2 separate regions of the Homo sapiens genome follow, and region 2 is linked to region 1. The links come from fine-mapping of genetic effects on gene expression. A gene starts in region 1. The other region holds a variant in brackets. All regions are shown on one strand. Distances are between the middles of the regions.

Region 1 (9,108 bases):
GTTTCTGATCCCGTAGTTCTACGGTGGCCCAAGATTCCAGGTTTCTTTTTTGTTTGTTTTTTCAGACAGGGTCTCTCTCTGTCACCTGGGCTGGAGTGCAGTGGCACCATCTTGGCTCCCTGAAACCTCCACCTCTCAGGCTCAAGCGATCCTCCTGCCTCAGCATCCCTAGTAGCTGGGACTACAGGCTAATTTTTTGTAGAGAGGTTTTGCCATGCTGCCCAGGCTGGTCTTGAACTCCTGGGCTCAAGCAATCCTTCTGCCTTGGCCTCCCAAAGTGCTGGGATTACAGGCATGAGCCACTGCAACTGGCTGAAGATTCTGGATTTCTAATAGGCTCCATGCCCATGCTGGCAGAGGGCACACCCTTCATGGAGTAGCACCACCCAAGGAATGTCTTGCCACTTGCTTTTCTACTTAGTGAATATCAACACACAACCTCAACCTCACTCTTTTCAACCACTGCATACTATTGGTGTTTGGAGGCATCATAACATATCCAATCCGTGCCCTATTAATGGACTTAATGTTGCTTCCAGTTTTTCAGGTTTGGAAGCAAAACTGCAATGAACACACTTGTATGTATACTTTGAACACTTGTGACATTTATAACAGTGCATCTGATAAATTCCTAGATATGGAACCCTCGAGTCCATGGTTTGTGAATTAATTCTTCTCATGTATACTGCCAATCCCCTTCACAGGTGCAACTGTCCTCCCCCCCAGCTCTGAGGATGTCTGTGTCCACACAGTGAGGGGTTGCCCATTTTAGTTGTTGTCAATCAAATTGGCGAAAAGAGAATCTTCTCATGTCTTCATTTTGATTTCTTCTATTTTGACTGAGGGTGAGCATTTTCACCTGCTTGTTAACCATTAGTATCCCCTTACCGGTTTATGTGCTTTGCCCATTTTTCTATTCGTTTTTATTTTCCTTATTGACTTGTAAAAACTCATCGGTCATCTATGTTAAAAATATTTTTTCCAGACGGTTGTCTTTAGAATTCAGGATATTACATTAAAAACACATTTTTTTTTCAGAGATGGAGTCTCACTGTGGTGCCCAGGCTGGCCTCAAATTCCTGGGCTCAAGTTATCCTCCCACCTCAGCCTCCCAAGGAGCTGGGACTACAGGCATGTAACACAACACCCTACGTCATATTTTAATACAGCCAATTTTAAAAAATTCTTTCCCTTTGTGACTCCTAGGTTTTGTGTCAAACTTTCCCCAATCCAAGAACATACACTTTTAGACTTTCAGATGTTTTCTTCTAGTAATTTTATGGTTTCCTTTTTACATTTAAATCTTCACTCCATCGGGATTTATTTCAGAATAAGAGATGAAGTGGGGAGCTGGATTTCTTTTTTTTCCCCCTTAACAGCTAACCAGTTGTCCAATTTGATTGAATAATTCATCTTTTCTCCTCTGATCTAAAATGTCATTTTATCATATATTTAATTTCCATTTGTTCACGGGTGTGTGTCTGGCCTCTACTCTGCTCCTTTGATCTGCCTGTCTGTTCTTGTGCCAGTACCCAACTATTTTATTATTGGAGCTTTCTACAACATTTTAGTAGCACTAGTCGTCCCTTATAATACTTCTTTTTCAGGATTTTCCAAGCTCTTTTTGCATGTTTATTTCTCCAGATGAACTTTAATATAATTTGTCAAGTTCAAAAGATCTCGTTGTTTTTCACATCTTCCAACAGATGTGATTTTCGGACATCTCAGCCCACAGCCAAACAGAAACAAGTTGAGAATAGGGTGGGTTTGGTGGTCTGCCCTGGAGGCAGGCAAAGTGATGGTAACAGAAGTGATAGTTTATACGGAGAGAGTTGATGAAGTGATAAAGTACTATAAAAGTAGACACAAGAACTACGAAAATGTAGCCTTCATGGAATGAGCCGTTGGTGTGGGGCCAAAAAAGGCCTTGGATTTTCACTGTATTACAACCAGGATACTGATGGACCCTTGTAACCACAACCCTGAGTCATGAAGACTCACATGTTCTGTAACCTCTGATTAAAAGCCCGGAAAGCGTGTAATATCCACTAGTGATTCCTATCCAAAATATCTCTTTTTAAGGTTTCAGATATTAATGTCTGGAAAACTAGTATGAAATGGTTCATTCTTGGATGGTGACATAAACATGACATGTTACTGGCCTCTTTACAGTTTTCTCAAAGCCCACCTTCAAATTCCAAGGAGCTGCCAGCTCCGGGATTTGAATTCACTCTATCCATGGAAACAAAGCTGAGGGAAATGTCCCCAGACTTTCAGCCAGTTCAAACACAATAATAAAAAAAGGTTTACCTCATACATGCCTCCAACATATGAGGCATGTTATAGGCAGATTATATTTTAATCCTCAACAGCCCCGCTGGGTGAATGCTGTACTCCCATTACACAGAAAACTGAGGCTCAGAGGGGTCAAACAACTGGGGCCAGTTTAAGTTAGTACGTGACAAAGAGCTCTCAGCTACCTCCACCTGCACATTCCACAGACCAGTCCCCTTCAGTTCACTCCCACAGGGAGGTTCAAAACACCACCGACCCTATTCAGACATCCCTTTGCAAGGCCCTGTCACCTGTCTTGCCCAATGCCCACCTAGCCAGGAGAGCCAGGATGCACAGTGAGGAAGGTGGAATGAGGTGCCAACGTAGCCCATCCAGGGAAGGAAGACAGCCCCCCCCCCCCGGCCACCCACTTGCCAGTGGCCCAGGTGGCAGGCCAGCCACTTGCCAATCCCCTTCCTGATCAGGGATTCAGGAAGTGAAGAGAGTGCCCCTGGAAGTCAGGAGACACCTCCAAGATGAAGGCCCTGCCTGCCATAGCCTGACACAGCCTCCCTGTACTCCCTGGGTTGTCCCAGGACGCAGACTCTGTGCTTACCATACCACACCTTTGTCAGTGGTGTGGGCAGGGCCCAGCAGAGTCCTGGACACCCCAGGGAGTAGGAGCTGTGCAGGTAACATAGGAGGGGGTGAAAGGGAAATGAACTCCCTTGGGAGTTCCCCATCCCAGAGGAAATAAAAGTCAAAGCACTCCTTTGTTTTTTCTTCCCAAGCCCTTATAAGGGGCTTTATGGGGCTTGCCTAGGTTTGAGGTGCAGCAGAGGCAGGCGGGTGAGGGCCTCCAGGCTGAGAGATCCTGGGGCAAAAGTGAAACTATATGGTCATGAACACGGGCATGTTCTGAACTCTGTGAAACCCTAGCCCAGGACCTGGCTGACTGTACAATCCGTCACCCGGCACACCGTAACAGAAGACCCTACTACGCGCAGAGGACAGTACTATTGGGGTGGCAACTGAAAAGGGTCCTGGCTGGAGGCGGGGTTTGCTGGAGGGGTAACAGAGCGTGCGCGGAGTGGAGAGGGTACGGAGGCTCACCGCCCAGCATCCCCAACCCCGGCGCTCAGAAGAGCAGCGCGCTCCGGAGCTCGGCGCGCGCGATCAAAGCCGGCGCCGCACGCGCACGCGCGCCCGCAGCCGCTCCCCCGCCCGCGCCGCTCCGGCTCCCGCGCGCGCGCACTTGAGGCCTCCCTTGTGCGTCTCCTCCATTCGCTACGTGCAGAATGGTCCGTCGGCAGCAGCTGCAGCGCTGGGTGGGAGGGGGAGGAGGAGGGGAGGGGGAGGCGGCGCCCAGGTCTCGGGGAGGGGCCGCGGCGGCCCTGGAGATAGAGGGGTGGGGGCGAAGGGGTGGGCCCCCGCAGCGGGGAGGACAGAGGGAGAGTCCGGGTGGGCTCGATGCTCAGCCTTCCCCCTCCCCCGCTCCCGCTTCTTTCTGCGAGGCCATTACGGCCATCTCCCGGCCTGAGCCTCCTGGAACCAAGCCGACCAAGAGGGGTTTCCTCCGTGTTGTCTCGTCCCCAAAACCCAGAATCCAGACCCAAGAAAGAACCACTCCTGCTGACCCCTCCTCCCGCTACCCGTCCCAACCGCATTCCCAAGCTTTCGTGGAGGTGACCCAACAGCAAGCACTTCCCCACTCCGCCTTTCATGGGGTGGGGTCCCTAAGAGGTACTGCAGACTAACTCCTCTTTTCATCTCTTACCCCACCTGGAGGAAGAGGCATGGCCAGGATGGACACCAGAGCACATTTCCCAGCATTTCCAAGGGGAAAGGGCAGCATCTCAGCATGCAGACTCCAACATGGCCACAGAAAGGTCGAGTGGCGCAGAGGAGCAGGCTGCTGCCCAGGCCCCTAGGGCCACTTCCAAAGGAGTGTGACCACGACTAGGTTGCTGTGGACTCACTCGCATTACAGGGCTGCGCCCTATACACCTGTTTGTAAAGGGTCCTCCTAGAATGTAATGGTGAGGGACCACCAAGCGGTGGACCAAGAATTCCAAACAGACCAGCTCCCTGCCTTGCCAGGAAACCAGATGTGGCCCAGATGTCCATAGCAGTTCCTCCCACAGGGTGGGACACCAGCTATTCTGTGCAACCCCTCCCAACCCTTCTTCCAGGGTCAGGGAGGAAAGCTGGCAACCTCCGTTGTCCCTTCCCATTTGGGTTGCTAGAAGGGAGCAACTCACTCATCCTCCTCTTCCTGCCAAGAGCCACCTGGGCTTACCTCTCCAGCAGCCACCTAGGTTCAACCTGTGGTCTAACCTCAAGCCCTCTGCTGACAGGTTAAGTCAAGATCGCCGGGAAGGAAGGCGTCCAGTTTCATTACACACACAGACGTACACACACACCCGACACCGACCCACGCGCCTGGGCTCTGCACAGTGGCTAGACCCCAAAAAGCCGATTCTCCTGTTCCCTCCGTGGTGGCCTCAGTCTTTTGGCGGCGCCCTCTGCTGGCCACTAGGAAGTGCAGGAAAAAACAGTCTGCCCATAGACGCTTGGTGGATCTGGGAAAGGGGACAAGAGGCAGAGAAACAAGTGAAAAGTGGGAGCTGAGAGCAGCGCTGGGCTGGCCACAAACAAGCGAGGCATGGTGACGCCTTCCTGGAGGTGGGGAGTTTTGAGCCAGCTTTCCATGGGCCTAGGGAGACAAGCCGAGCTGGCAGATAGGGGCTCAGGACACCCCAGGAGTGGCCCTTCCTGTGTGCTGAGCCCTACCCCTGTCCTGGATGGCTCATACACCCACTAACTCATATGGCTGCTGTGCCCTGCTTGGGAGTCCTTCCTGTCAGCCTCTATTGGGGTGGTGGGTGGGGAGGAGCAGCCATGGAAACCCTGATCCTTCTAGTCATAGTCTGGCTCCCTGGGGCTGTGAGAGGTGTCCCCAAAGAGAAGCCTCCAATTGACAAACCTCTGCTCCACCCCACCCCACATACACAGAGGATGGCCCAAGCCCAGGTCCCTGGCATGGTGGGGCAGGGGCCTGAGTCACAGCCTGGCGTGACCCTGCCCAGTCCCCAGGAATGGCCAGCTCGTCCAGAGGTGAGACCCAGGTCAACAATCCATCAGTCTGCCTCCTGCCACCAGGTATCCTCCCCATCACGTCCTACACGTGGGGTGGGCCAGGACAGTGCTGGGCAGAGCTAGTGTTGGGCCTGTGCCTGGGGGCCACCAAGGGGGCCCGGAGAAAAGAATGGAGGGGTTTTCACTTCCTGAGCAGCAGGAGGAGCCAGCTGGGGTTAAAGACAGGAGGGACTGGTTGGGCCTACAGGCATTTGGAGTCTCTCCCTGCCTGCTGGGTGAGGGAGGCAGCAGGTGCCAAGAACTGCTAGCTTCTAGGACCTGACCCTCAAGTTGCTTCTCCTGCTGAGGGGCTTCTAGGGTCACCCTCAGGGCCTTGACATCTGCACACATCTGCACAGGCCCTTCACCAGGGACTTAACCTCCAAAGGCAGCTCCTGCTCCCAGCCTTCACAGGCCCCCCTAGGGCCCAAGTCCCCAGACCCAACCTCAGTCTGCAAGCTGGCCAAGTCAGAGGTCCTGGCTGCCTGGACCACTCCCAAGCAGTAAATGGCACTGTGGGCTTCCTCCATCCTGTCTTCCCCGCCCCACTTCATTGATTCACTGACTTCCAACTTACTGGTCAGGCCCCCTTCCAGACCCTGCCTGGATGAAGAGGACTCCCAGAAGCAGTGATTGAAGGCCTAGGAGGATACAGAGAGCCAGGTGCTTTAATTGGAGGTAATTAGTTAATTTACTCTGAAAGCAATGGGGCAGGGCGGGGACAGGGGGAGGAGAGGGGAGGGGAGGAGGTAGGGGGCTGTGACCTAACTGGGCTCAAACTCTCAAACTCTGGTCAGCCTCCTTCTGGACCACAGCAAACCTGTGTGTACCCACCCACTTAGGAGACCCTCTCCTGGGCCCCAGGTCAGAGCAAGACCCAAAGTGGACTAGGGTGGCTCTGCAGAAAAAGCAGGTGCCCTGGGGTGGTGGGAACAGGCCTTTTGAGGTTAGGGAGGTGTGGACTGGCATGAGGGAATTGGAGAGGTGCAAGGAGCTCTGGGATGGGAACTGGTCCCTCTCCTGTCACGTATAATTCCATCCCTCCCAAGGTCATTGCTGTCACCCAAGTTAGGGGCCCAGCCCCCTCCTTTGGTCAGTGAAGTCCCAGGGCAGCCCATTTTAAATACAACGGGGCCTGAAGGCTAACTTCTGGCCTTCCTGCTTCGGGAAATCATTCCAATAACCGGGAAAAAAGGGGGCCCGAGGACAGAGCCCCTGCCGGGCCCCAGGGGGAGTGTCGTCGGCTCCTTTGCGTCGCCGGCCGGCGGCGTGGCGGGGACTCTGGCCGGCAGCCTCCCGCGCCGTCCGGAGCAGCTGACCCGCTGGCGGTGGGCCAGGTCGCGGCGGGGCCTGGAGGCAGCAACGTGCGGCGCGGCATGTCGCGGGCGCCGCGGCAGGGAAATGTGGGGGCGGGCCGGCGCGCCCCCTCCCCCCCGCCTACGCTGGCCCATTCATAAAACCTGCAGGCGCTGCCCGGCCTGGCAGCCTTGGTCTCCTAATTGCAAACTCATTAAGGAGTTTGCATCTCATTTGCATGGAAATCATTTCCTGGCCCTAAACAGAGAAACTTCCCGCCCCTCCACCAGCCCCTCTCTGCCCTGCTTTACCCATGCACAGTCTGGGAGAGGAGAGGGGGCATATCTCTGACCTGCGCCCCTTCCCTGGCCTCACCACCACCCTCCCACTTTAGGAGTTGGGGAAGGGATTGGCAGAACACCCACCCAGCCAGGAGCCCTGCCTGTGCCCCAGGTGAGCCGGCCCTGCCCTAGTGGGTCCAACTGAGGGGAGGTGCCTGCCAAGTCATTTGCCCCCCGGCCTGGCCGTGCCCAGGGAAGGGAGGAGGCGGTCGGCAGTTGGCCCCAGCAGCTGGTTGTACCTGGCAGGAGGTGGGTGAGGCTTTTCGTGCCCAGCCTCACGTACGTGCCCTGCCATAGGCCGTGCCCCCACCCCCACACCCCTCACCCCACAGAACAAGCGCCTAGTGACTGCAGAAACAGACACCCAGTCATGGCACACAAAGGCACCCACACCAGGCCAGCCATCATGGCTGCCCCCCTGGCAGCCACCCTGGAGGGCAGACAGATGCCTTCACAAGCCATTTTGTCTTTCTCCAGCTTGGTGCCAGGACTGGGGGTGGGGGAAAGGGTTTCTCCTGAGACTTCTCTGAGTAAGGGGGCCCACAGAGGGGTTTCCTTATGTACCCCAGCTGTGGCCTCTTGCCCCCTCTCTCCTGTAACCCATGTTTACAGAGGCCTCCAAGTGCTCTACCCTGCATGGGGACCTGCCCAGGCGAGGGGGTCACAGGAGCCTCCAACCCAGGAGGGGAAGTGAGAGATAAAGCCCCTAAGGAAGGGACACCTAAGTGCCTCCCCAACCAGGGTCTGTCCTTCGTGTCCCAAGTGTGTGTAGTGGAGGGAGTGCTCCCCAGTTTCCTGGGGGTTGAGGTGGGGCGGTATTCTAAACCTTTGGAAATGGAATAGAACTACCTAAAGTATATGAAATTAGATACTACTTGGGACACTATGTCTTGGTTCTGTATGTCCTGGGACAGTGTAAAAAGTGATCACAAAATTTTCAACATCACAGTCTAAAATAAAAACCTGCCTCTTGTCTGCCTCCTCAGACATAAACCTGCTTACGCTTCCCATCTGCCCACACTCCCACCTGCTGTATCTGAAGTTTCTCCCTTCCTTTGCTAGGGCATAAAGGGGTGGGCAAGGATGTTCTGGAACACTGACCACACATCCGTCCTGAGTATGGCTGGACTGACCCTACCCTCCCAGCTCCTGGAGCAGTTGGGTTCCAAGTGCCATATGTGTGCGTGGTTCAGGGGTACTGGAAGAAAGTTTTAGAATGCCTATTTATTTTTCATCGAATCCTTTTTTCATTTAGTGTGAGTGTGTTTTACAAGGTAAACTATATAAAAACATACTCATCTGACGGGTGCGTACTCAACAATCTTTTTTATTGCTAAGGGCACATGATCAAAAAAACTTCGGAGGTCACTGGCCTAGACTTCAGGTGGGGCAGCTGTGGGCAGGGGATGGCTTGTCTTGTCCATCTAAGTATCCAGCCTGACACATGACTAGTTCAGAGCCTGGCAGGGAGCAGAGGTCAGGGACACAGTATTGAATGAATGAAGTCCACCCCTAGAACTGACAGATGAGGAAACTGAAATAATTCTGGGGCGGGGAGATTGCTCAGAGGAGGACATGGGCAGGTTGAGAGAGTCTCCCCTCATTGCTGCTATGTCTGCAGCCTGCCCGTGTCCAACACCCAGCACCCACACAAACCTTACTTCTACCCACCCCAGGGAGCACAGCTCCCTCCTCTGCCTACCAGCAGAGTGGCCACCTGTCTTGAGCTTCTTACTGGATCCTGATTAGCAGAGCCAGACAGGGTTGTCACCTGCCATATCCCTCTACGTGGCAGAAAGTCTGTTGCCAGCTTTGTATCCTAGAACTCTCTGGAAGTCAATCTGGTGTAGGAGAAAGAATTTAGGCTCCAGACAGGCGTCAGTCCTCATCCAGCTTGGTGACCTTGGGCACAACACATAACTGGTATAAGCCTCAGTTTCCCAATCTGTATCTTGGGACCAATATTTGTACTTACTGTACAGAGTTGTTGTGAATGTTGAGTAGCCCACTGTGTGTGTAGGCTCTGGCATATACTAGGTGTTCAGTAAGATTCCTGTCC
Region 2 (9,108 bases), 74 kb before region 1:
TCCTCTGAGCTCATCACTGAGCCTGGAGCCAGCTGTGTGTGTGTGTGTGTGTGTGTGTGTGTGTGTGTGTGTGTGTGTGTGTGTGATTGGATTTGTTGCCGGGGCTGCCATAACACAGTACCACAGACTTGGTGACTCAGTAGTTTAAAACAACAGAAACGTATTCTCGCACAGTGAAGGAGGCCAAAAGTCTGAAATCAAGGTGTTGGCAGAGTCTGTTTCTTCCAGAGGCTCTGATGGAGATTGTTCCTTGCCTCTCTCCTTGCTTCTGGGGGCTGCCAGCACCTTGGTATTTCTCGGCTCATAGCTGCATCACTCCAATCTCTGACTCCATCATCACATGGCCTTCTGCTCTGTGTCTCCATGTCTCTGTTTTCAAATCTTTTTCTCCTTATAAGGACACCAGTCACTGGATTTAAGGCCCACTCTAATCCAGTAAGATCTCATCTTAATTTGATTACATCTACAAACACCCTATTTCCAACTACGGTCACATCCCCAGGTACTGGGGGTTAGGACTCCAACTTATCTTTTTGGTGGGGATGGGGGGGCACAATTCAACCAACAACAGTGATTATGGCTGTGTGTCTGTGTGTGTAAGACTGAGTGTGCATGAGTGTGTGTATTAATGTGTATACGCGTGAGGGGTAGTGAGTGTTATGCACATGTGCTTGTGAGAACATGTCTGCGATGGTGTTTCTCGGTGTGCTTATGTGACTGTGGGCATGTACATATGAGCATGTGTGTATATGTGCTTCTGTTTCCACGACTTGGAGACCCTGCTGGATGAGCTGAGAAGGGCAGCAAGGCAGGACGGTGGCAACAGGTTGAAGAGGTGCTTGGGGCCAGCCAGGTGAGCAGGCAGGCCTTGCCTCATGAATCTGGAAGAGTAGCTGGTGGATACAGACTCTGAGAAACAAGGACAAGGATGTTTGTTGAGCTGGGATACAGGCTGGTAGGCCCAGGCAGTAGCTCCTGACAGCAGTGCCTGTTCCCAGGTCTTCTTTCAGGAATATTCCTAGAAACCCTCTCCACCCATGCTCCTGACCCTTGCATCCCATTTGCCTGGACAGAGAGGCACTGCCTGACTCCTCCCTTCCCAGGAATAAAAGTCAGCACTCAGTTACCTGTTGTGCCAGCCAGGTAGGGGCGGGGCAGGTAGCCAGTCCTTCCCTAGACCCACCCCCAGCCTAGTCCAAAGTAGCACCCAATCACCCATCCCTATGCCCTGCCATGCCTCTCAACTTGTATCTTGCACCTTGGCTGGGGCTGGACCCCAGAAATCAAAGAAAAACGGGGGGAGCATGTAGCAGTCAGGTAAGGTCCAGAATGAGGGCTTCTTATCTCCCTAGGGCAGCTCTCTTAGGCAAGCCCACCATCAAGCGACAGGATATTGGGAAGGTCTCCTCATAGTAATGTCAACTCAGGGCCTGCTCTGAGCCGGGTTATCTCATTTAAATTTCACAATCAGGCCAGGTGTGGTGGCTTTTGCCTATAAGCCCAGTATTTTGGGGGAGTGAGAGGTGACAGGGTGCTGGCAGTCCTCACAGCCCTCGCTCACTCTCGGCGCCTCCTCTGCCTGGGCTCCCACTTTGGCCACACTTGAGGAGCCCTTCAGCCCGCCGCTGCACTGTGGAAGCCCCTTTCTGGGCTGGCCAAGGCCGGAGCCGGCTCCCTCAGCTTGCGAGGAAGTGTGGAGGGAGAGGGGCGGGCGGGAACCGGGGCTGCGCGCGGTGCTTGCGGGCCAGCGCAAGTTCCGGGTGGGCGTGGGCTCGGCAGACCCCGCACTCGGAGCAGCCCGCCAGGCCCCACCGGCCCTGGGCAGTGAGGGGCTTAGCACCTGGGCCAGCAGCTGCTGTGCTCAATTTCTCCCCGGGCCTTAGCTGCCTTCCCGCGGGGCAGGGCTCGGGACCTGCAGCCTGCCATGCCTGAGACTCCTCCTGGCTCCGTGGGCTCCTGTGCGGCCAGAGCCTCCCCGACGAGCGCCACCCCCTGCTCCATGGCGCCCAGTCCCATCCACCACCCAAGGGCTGAGGAGTGCGGGCGCACAGCGCCGGACTGGCAGGCAGCTCCACCTGCAGCCCTGGTGCAGGATCCACTGGGTGTAGCCAGCTGGGCTCCTGAGTCTGGTGGGGACGTGGAGAACCTTTATGTCTAGCTCAGGGATTGTAAATACACCAATTGGCACTCTGTATCTAGCTCAAGGTTTGTAAACACACCAATCAGCACTGTGAATGCACCAATCGACACTGTATCTAGCTACTCTGGTGGGGACTTGGAGAACCTTTGTGTCAACACTCTGTATCTAGCTAATCTAGTGGGGACATGGTGAACCTTTGTGTCTAGCTCGGATTGTAAACGCACCAATCAGCACCCTGTCAAAACAGACCACTGGGCTCTACCAATCAGCAGGATGTGGGTGGGGCCAGATAAGAGAATAAAAGCAGGCTGCCCCAGCCCGCAGTGGCAACCCGCTGGGATCCCTTTCCACGCTGTGGAAGCTTTGTTCTTTTGCTCTTTGCAATAAATCTTGCTACTGCTCACTCTGTAGGTCCACGCTGCCTTTATGAGCTGTAACACTCACCGCGAAGGTCTGCAGCTTCACTCCTGAAGCCAGCGAGACTACGAGCCCACCGGGAGGAACAGACAACTCCAGACGCGCCGCCCTAAGAACTGTAACACTCACCGCGAAGGTCTGCAGCTTCACCCCTAAGCCAGCGAGACCACGAACCCACCAGAAGGAAGAAACTCTGAACACATCTGAACATCAGAAGGAACAAACTCTGGACACGCTGTCTTTAAGAACTGTAACACTCACCGCGAGGGTCCGCGGCTTCATTCTTGAAGTCAGTGAGACCAAGAACCCACCAATTCCGGACACAGGAGGATCGCTTGAGCCCAGGAATTCAAGACCAGCCTGGGCAACCCAGCAACACTCCATCTCTACAGAAGTTGTAAAATTAGCTGGGCGTGATGGGGCGCATCTGTAGTCCTAGCTACTTATCCTAGCCTTGGCGAGAGGATCACTTGAGCCCAGGAGGTTAAGGCTGCAGTGAGCCATGATTGCACCACTGCACTCCAGCCGGGGTAACAAAGTCAGACCGTGTCTCTAAAAATAAATAAATAAATAAAAATAAAATAAATTTGACAACCAAGTTTAAATGGTGTTCTCATTATTCCCATTTTACAGATGCAGTCACTGGGGCCCCCAAGAAGTTAAGTGATCTGCCTAAGATCACATGCCTTTGTTTATATGTGTTGGAATTTTTCAATTCTCTCTGGAAATCCACATCCTCCACCCCCAACCCAGACTCCAACACAACTGCTTCCACCACGGCCCACCTGCGTACCCCACACATATCCCTGAAGTGCAGACTTCCTCCCATCCTTCCCCAGGAAGATTCCCTGGTCTGTGGGGTAGCGAGTGTTGGGGTGGTCTCTCCTTCCCTCCCATGCTTCTAGATTCCTCTGTAGGGTCCCGGTTTTGTTTTTGGTGTGGCAGCAAGCTCACTGCCTTTTTGAGTACTGTATGTCAGTGAGTTTGCATGCACACACCTGGAGGAGGGATGTGTGGGCATGAGAGGTATCTGGGCAAGTGGGCTTACTTGCCCACCTGGGGCACATGTGGGTACAGTGCAGTGGAGCATACATTGCCTAGATTGTAACCGTGTGTGTGCCTAGACACAGGCAAATGAGCCCATGTGGGTGTTCATGAAGGGCCTGCCCCCTGCATGTTTGGGGGTCTGTAGAATGAGTCCCCATTTCTCTCCCCTTCCCAAATAACTGCCACCATCTTCAGTTCAGACTCCTGGGCCCCAGGTAAGGGGCTGGTGAAAACCGCCTGTGACTGGGGACAGAGACACCTGAGTCTTAAGCCCCACCCAGGCTGCTAGTGCCCTTGAGCAGGCATCACCCCACCCAGGCAGCGGGAGTGTCCTCACCCAATGGGATAGGGTGACATGGGGGAGGAGGTTTGAAGCGGGGAGAAGGCAGCGAGGCTTTCAGCTCCCTAGATGGGAGGCTCATTACCCTAGCACTCAGTAGGTTGTAGGGAAGGGGGACTGAGCCAGGACTTGGCACTGACTACAAAGGGTAGGGGCAGCCCCCAGCACTCCCGCCGCGGCAGGCCAGGGGAGGGGCTGTGACGTTTGGTGGCCTCATGCAGCTGAGAGGAAGTAGCTAATTGCCAACCTGATGACTGGCGGCTGAGGAGTGGGGTGATGATGCCACTGGCAGAAGCAGGCGCCCTGGCCCAAGGAGGAGGCCCTTCAGCAACGGAGTGGGCCTGCATTCTGCGGAGGGTGAGACTGAGGTGGCTGCAGTCAAAGGAGAAGGGGGCAGGGGTTTGTTGAGGCTGTGACCGTGGGAAAGCGCTTCTCCAGGGCTTCCCTCAGCTTCAAGGAGAAAGAGTTCAGAGGCCCTGAGGGGATGAAGGGACTTGTGAAGGGGCTTCAGGGGGATGGGTTGGGGGGAAGGAGGTTCCTATTCTTACTCCCCTTCTGCCTATGCTCCCCCAATGTTCCTGTCTCTCCCCTCCCCCACCTTGGCCCCCTCTTTGGCCCCTGTGGCCAAAGTTGTTGAGGAAGGAGGGAGTAGATGGAGGGCTCTTTTCACCAGAAGACCCCCAGGCACAAGCAGCCCACCTTACTGATGGTCAGAGCATCCAGAAGAAGTGGCAAGACTTCAGCTGTCCTCAAAGCAGGAAGACAGAGTGTTTCTGGCAGAAAGAACAGCACAAGCAAAGGTTAGGCAGTGGGGTCTGGAGAGGCTGGTGGAGGACTGGGGCTTGGCTTCAATGGTTATGAGAGGAGGTGGGCAGGATGTTCTGTACCAAGGGCCACACTGTCCCTTCCTGGAAGAAACAGTGGGTACCCAGCACCCAGAGCTTCTCCCACATGCTGGCCACCGCCTCTGGCCCCAGTAGACCTGGCCCTCAACTGCCTCAGCAAGCCTCACAGGTTGGGGACCCCACCCTCATTATTCTCAAGTGCATCAACCCCGAAGGACTGAAGCCCCGAGTCCCAATAAACAGGTCCCATCCATCCGTAGGCCAGTCCGCTGGGCCCCTAGCACCCCCTATGGGCAGGAAGCAACACTAATGGAGGAGGAGCCTCCAGCAGCCTGGGGTGGGGTGGGGGTGGGAGAGTGAGACGTGAGGGAGGAGA[G/C]AGACTTGCCCTCTAGGAAGCGGACAGACCATGCCTCAGGAAACCCCAGTGTCACAGGTCACAGACACTGACCTTGAAGCGTTACTCTCATGGGTGAAATTTAGCCCCTGTCCTCAGGAAGCTCCCAGTCTGACGGGGGACACATATAGTGCTCTCAGAGCTGCCTTCTTTAGGGTGAAACTCAGTATCTGGGCTTCAGGAAACTCCCAGTGTAAGGGGAGAGACACGACCCTGCCCTTAGGGATCTCTCAAATGAGGCATACCCACTGGACTTTCGGGAACCATCAATCTGTTTCCAGACATGGATTAGAGATTTCAATGCCTCAAGGGCTGCCAGGAAAAAAAATACAAGACGTCCAATTAAATTGAATATCAGATAAACAACGAATAATATTTTAGCATAAGTCTGTCCCATACAATATTTGGGACAGACTTACACTATTTAAAGTATCCAGTTTAACTGGAAGTCTTGTGTTTTTATTTGCCAGATCTGGTAACCCTAGGTGCCTCCAGTTTGAGGGAGGAGAGAGGACACCCCCTCCACCCCAGACATAGGAAAGCAGGTAAACACCTCAGCGTGCTCCGGAGGGCAGGGGTGGGGCAGGAGGAGAGTCCTGGGGCTCCGGCTCGCGGCAGTTTAAAATTCCTTCCAGGCCAGAGCCCTAATCCCTCGGTGCACAATGGCCGCCTTCTCCCCCGCCGCCCGCGCCCACGCCCTCCCCCGCGGGGCCGTGGCAGTGCCACCAAGGGCCTCTTTAAGCCCCTTTGAAGCCGCGGAGCCCCGCGCCGCAGGAGGCCCCGCCGCTATGCCAGCTATGCCAGCTATGTCCCTGCTGCCGCCGGCCGCCACCGCTCCCCCATTAATGCTGGCTAATCTGGCTAATAAATAAACTCCCCTCCCAGCCCCAGCCCCGCGCCGACTCCTCCCCGCCCCCGCAGAATCGATGTCAGGGCTCGACTAGAGCAAGCGCCCGCACTCCACCCCACTCCCTCGAGATGTAGCTGACGTTTTTTCTTATGGCTGCCCTAGGTCTGTAGCCCGTCGGGGATTCTCGGGGAGACGTGGGATTTGGGAGGTCTCCGCCTAGCCACTGCGTTTGCCTTCCTCTTTTCCAGTCCACCTGCGCACCAGGGGCAGGACACGTGGCTGGGTGCAGACGCTGGCCCGGATGTCGCGGAGGACTCGCGGGCCGGTAGAGCGCGCGGCGGCGGCGGCGGCGGCGGCGGCGGGAGGAGACGCAGGTCACGCCCCCTTCCCACCACCTCCCGCCGCCGACGGGGCGCGCGCGCCGAGGAGCCCGGGACAGGTGACTCCTAGAGGACTGCGTCTGCGCCTCCCCCGGCGGGAGTCCCTTCTTCGCGGCCTCTGCCGCCCCCTGCGTCCCCTCCTGGGCTTCCGAGAGTCTGACTCAGCCAAGCCGGCATCGCTTCGCCTCCTACAACACACCCCGAGCGCGAGAAGAAATTACAGGATTGCAGGGGCACGGCTAATGCGCTCTAATTACCCACCGCCGCTGTCATCCGCGGCGCTCCGCGGCGCTGGGCCAACGCGCCGTAATTAAGACGCCGCTCCCCGGTCCCGGAACCCTCCCTTCGCCACCCTCCACCCACCCACCTCGCGGTCCCCAGGACCACTGGCTGCCAACTCCTGCCGCCCTCTGGGACTGCCCCTCAGTCCCAGGAGAGCTATGAGGCCTCACTGGGGGCAGAACTTGGGGAGACCGAAGCCGGCCCTTCCACTCCCCTAAACCTACAGTCCTGGAAGGTCTCTGCTGGAAGAGACTGGGAGAGTGGGGAGGGGCCAGGGACCTATTTCGTTGACAGAAACAGTGAGGTCTATTGGAAAGTTAGCCTTCAGTGGGAGGAGTGGCAAAGGCACGCAGGGCAGCAGTACCCCCGTTTGGCACTTGAGGCACGGAGAAGGGAAGGGAAGTCCGCCCAGCCAGAACTCCCAGACCCGCTCGTTTAACAGTGGCTTTATGAGCAGCACGACGGACTCCCTCCCCTGGCGGGGAAATTACCTTCCTGCGAAGAAAGGTGACATCCCCGCCACAGACACGGAGGCCCCGCCTGCTGGCCAGCTGTGGCCGCCATAGGGGAGCTGGTGAGGAGTGAGGTGGCTCTGGCCTCCCATGTCAGGTAGGGTGAGAGAGGCCCTGAAGATAGAAGCCAGGCCCGAAGGCCAGAATTAAAGGGGTAGCTTGGCCATCAGCTCCTTCCCCCAAAACCAGGCTCAGAGCTCTCCTCTATCAGCAATTCTTTCCTGAGGTCCAGGGTGTTGCAAACTCATGGCCTTGGGCCACGTTTTACCTTCAGTGAGGTTTTGTTTGGCTTGCAATGAGTACATGGGTTTTAGGTTGAATGTGAGAGTCTGCAGACAATGTGGGTTCTCCGACTGCCCTCCCAGTGAAGGTGGACCTCTGATTTAGACCGGCCCGCTGGGCCCGTGCCTACATCCTTTTCCTCAGCGTCAGGATCTTAGTCCCCATGATTGCTGCCCCTTTGTGGTCTGCATGTTTCTTGGTAAGGGTGCCCAGTCAAGTGTCTCTGGGAGCCCCCTCTTCTCTGTCATCGTCAGGCTCCCCACTTGCAGTGGCCGTGGTGGCTGCACATGCTCCCGGATACCCCTCCAGCACTCCCTTTTGTCATCTTGAGTTTCAGTCCGTGACTTGGGTGGCACCCTATCTTCTCCATCAGGGATGGTAGCTATTTTTCTGCCATGAGACTAGAGGTTGCTTGAGAACAGGAAATTGGATCTCTCCCTTCAGGCTGGGATTTCACTAAGGGCTGGAGAAGGGGGGAATATGGGAGGATTATCTCCTATCACAGGGAGCGCTCTGAGGGCAAGGCTGTGTCTCCGATTCAGACTGACGGTTCCCTGAGGATGGGGCTGTTTCTCCCCTCCGACTGGGGCTCCCTGAGGATGGGGCTGTTTCTCCCCTCCGACTGGGGCTCCCTGAGGACAGGGCTGTGTCTCCCCTCAGCCTGGGGCTCCCTGAGTCAGGGCTGTGTCTCCCCTCAGACTGGGGCTCCCTGAGGACGGGGCTGTGTCTGCCTCAGACTGGGAATCCCTGAAGATGGGGCCGTGTCTCCCTCAAAGTGGGGCTCCCTCAGGACAGCGTTGTGTCTCCCCTCAGACTGCGGCTCCCTGAGGACGGGGCTGTGTCTCCCTCAGACTGGGGCTCCCTGAAGAAAGGGCTGCTTCTCCCTCAGACTGGAGCTCCCTGAAGATGGGGCTGTGTCCCCCTCAGACTGGGGCTGCCTGAGGATGAGGCTGCATCTCCCCTCAGACTGGAGCTCCCTGAGGGCAGGGCTGTCTCCCCCCTTCAGACTGGGGCCTCCCCCAAAGGACAGGGACTGTGTCTCCCCTGGGACTAGGTTCTTTGTGTCTTCTGCATCAGACAGATTCCCATGAGGACAGGGCTGTCTCCCCCTCCATCTGGAGCTCCCTGAAGGCAATGGCCTCTCCCCTCAAATGGGACATTTGCACCCCACCCCACCCTCTGGCTCCCCATGGCGCCCAGGCATTCCTCCCAGGACACCATTTGTCACGCTTTGATGAATGAAACTTACTAAGAATAACTCAGTCCTTGTAGACTCTAAAGGACAGGGGGAGGGAGAGGGAGGAGGCTGGTGATTGTGGGGGTGCTGGGGGAGGGAGGACACAATCCATTTATTCAATAGCATTTCCTGAGTCCCCAGCTGGGCACTGGGGGAGACACAGTGAGTGCCACAGAGCCCCCTACTGTGCCATTTCTGCCACTGACTGCCAGGGCAGACTCTGAGACAGAAAGTTCAGGTTCCTGCTTCAGAGCCTCCCCACCCCAGCAGTCATTACCTCAGGGCCACCCAGCCCCCTCCATGCCAGTCATGAGCTCCCTCTGCCCCTCCCTTCAGTGGAGGGGAGACTTTGAAATCAGGTGCTTGGGGGGGGGGCGCTGCT

What was found. PIP is the estimated chance that this variant, and not a neighbour inherited with it, causes the effect.
Region 2: its variant is fine-mapped to the expression of SCIRT in thyroid (GTEx, PIP above 0.99).

Annotation. Positions count from the first base shown.
Region 1 is chr6:44,069,924-44,079,031 of GRCh38, forward strand. SCIRT (stem cell inhibitory RNA transcript) reads right to left here and starts at 4,729. Exons shown (of 5, transcript NR_125864.1): 1 at 4,574-4,729. RefSeq lists enhancers at 3,140-3,199, 3,240-3,339, 4,360-4,619, 5,740-5,809 and silencers at 3,420-3,499, 3,590-3,849.
Region 2 is chr6:43,996,400-44,005,507 of GRCh38, forward strand. SCIRT (stem cell inhibitory RNA transcript) reads right to left here. Exons shown (of 5, transcript NR_125864.1): 2 at 4,644-4,717; 3 at 4,192-4,316; 4 at 2,819-3,109; 5 at 1-909. It overlaps LINC03040 (long intergenic non-protein coding RNA 3040), which reads left to right and starts at 4,186. Exons shown (of 3, transcript NR_160956.1): 1 at 4,186-4,301; 2 at 5,654-5,728; 3 at 6,282-9,108. It overlaps LOC124901321 (a long non-coding RNA gene), which reads left to right. Exons shown (of 2, transcript XR_007059591.1): 2 at 2,552-3,155. RefSeq lists enhancers at 4,293-4,442, 8,183-8,814 and a silencer at 6,365-6,534. The variant G/C (reference allele first, on the strand shown) is at 5,166.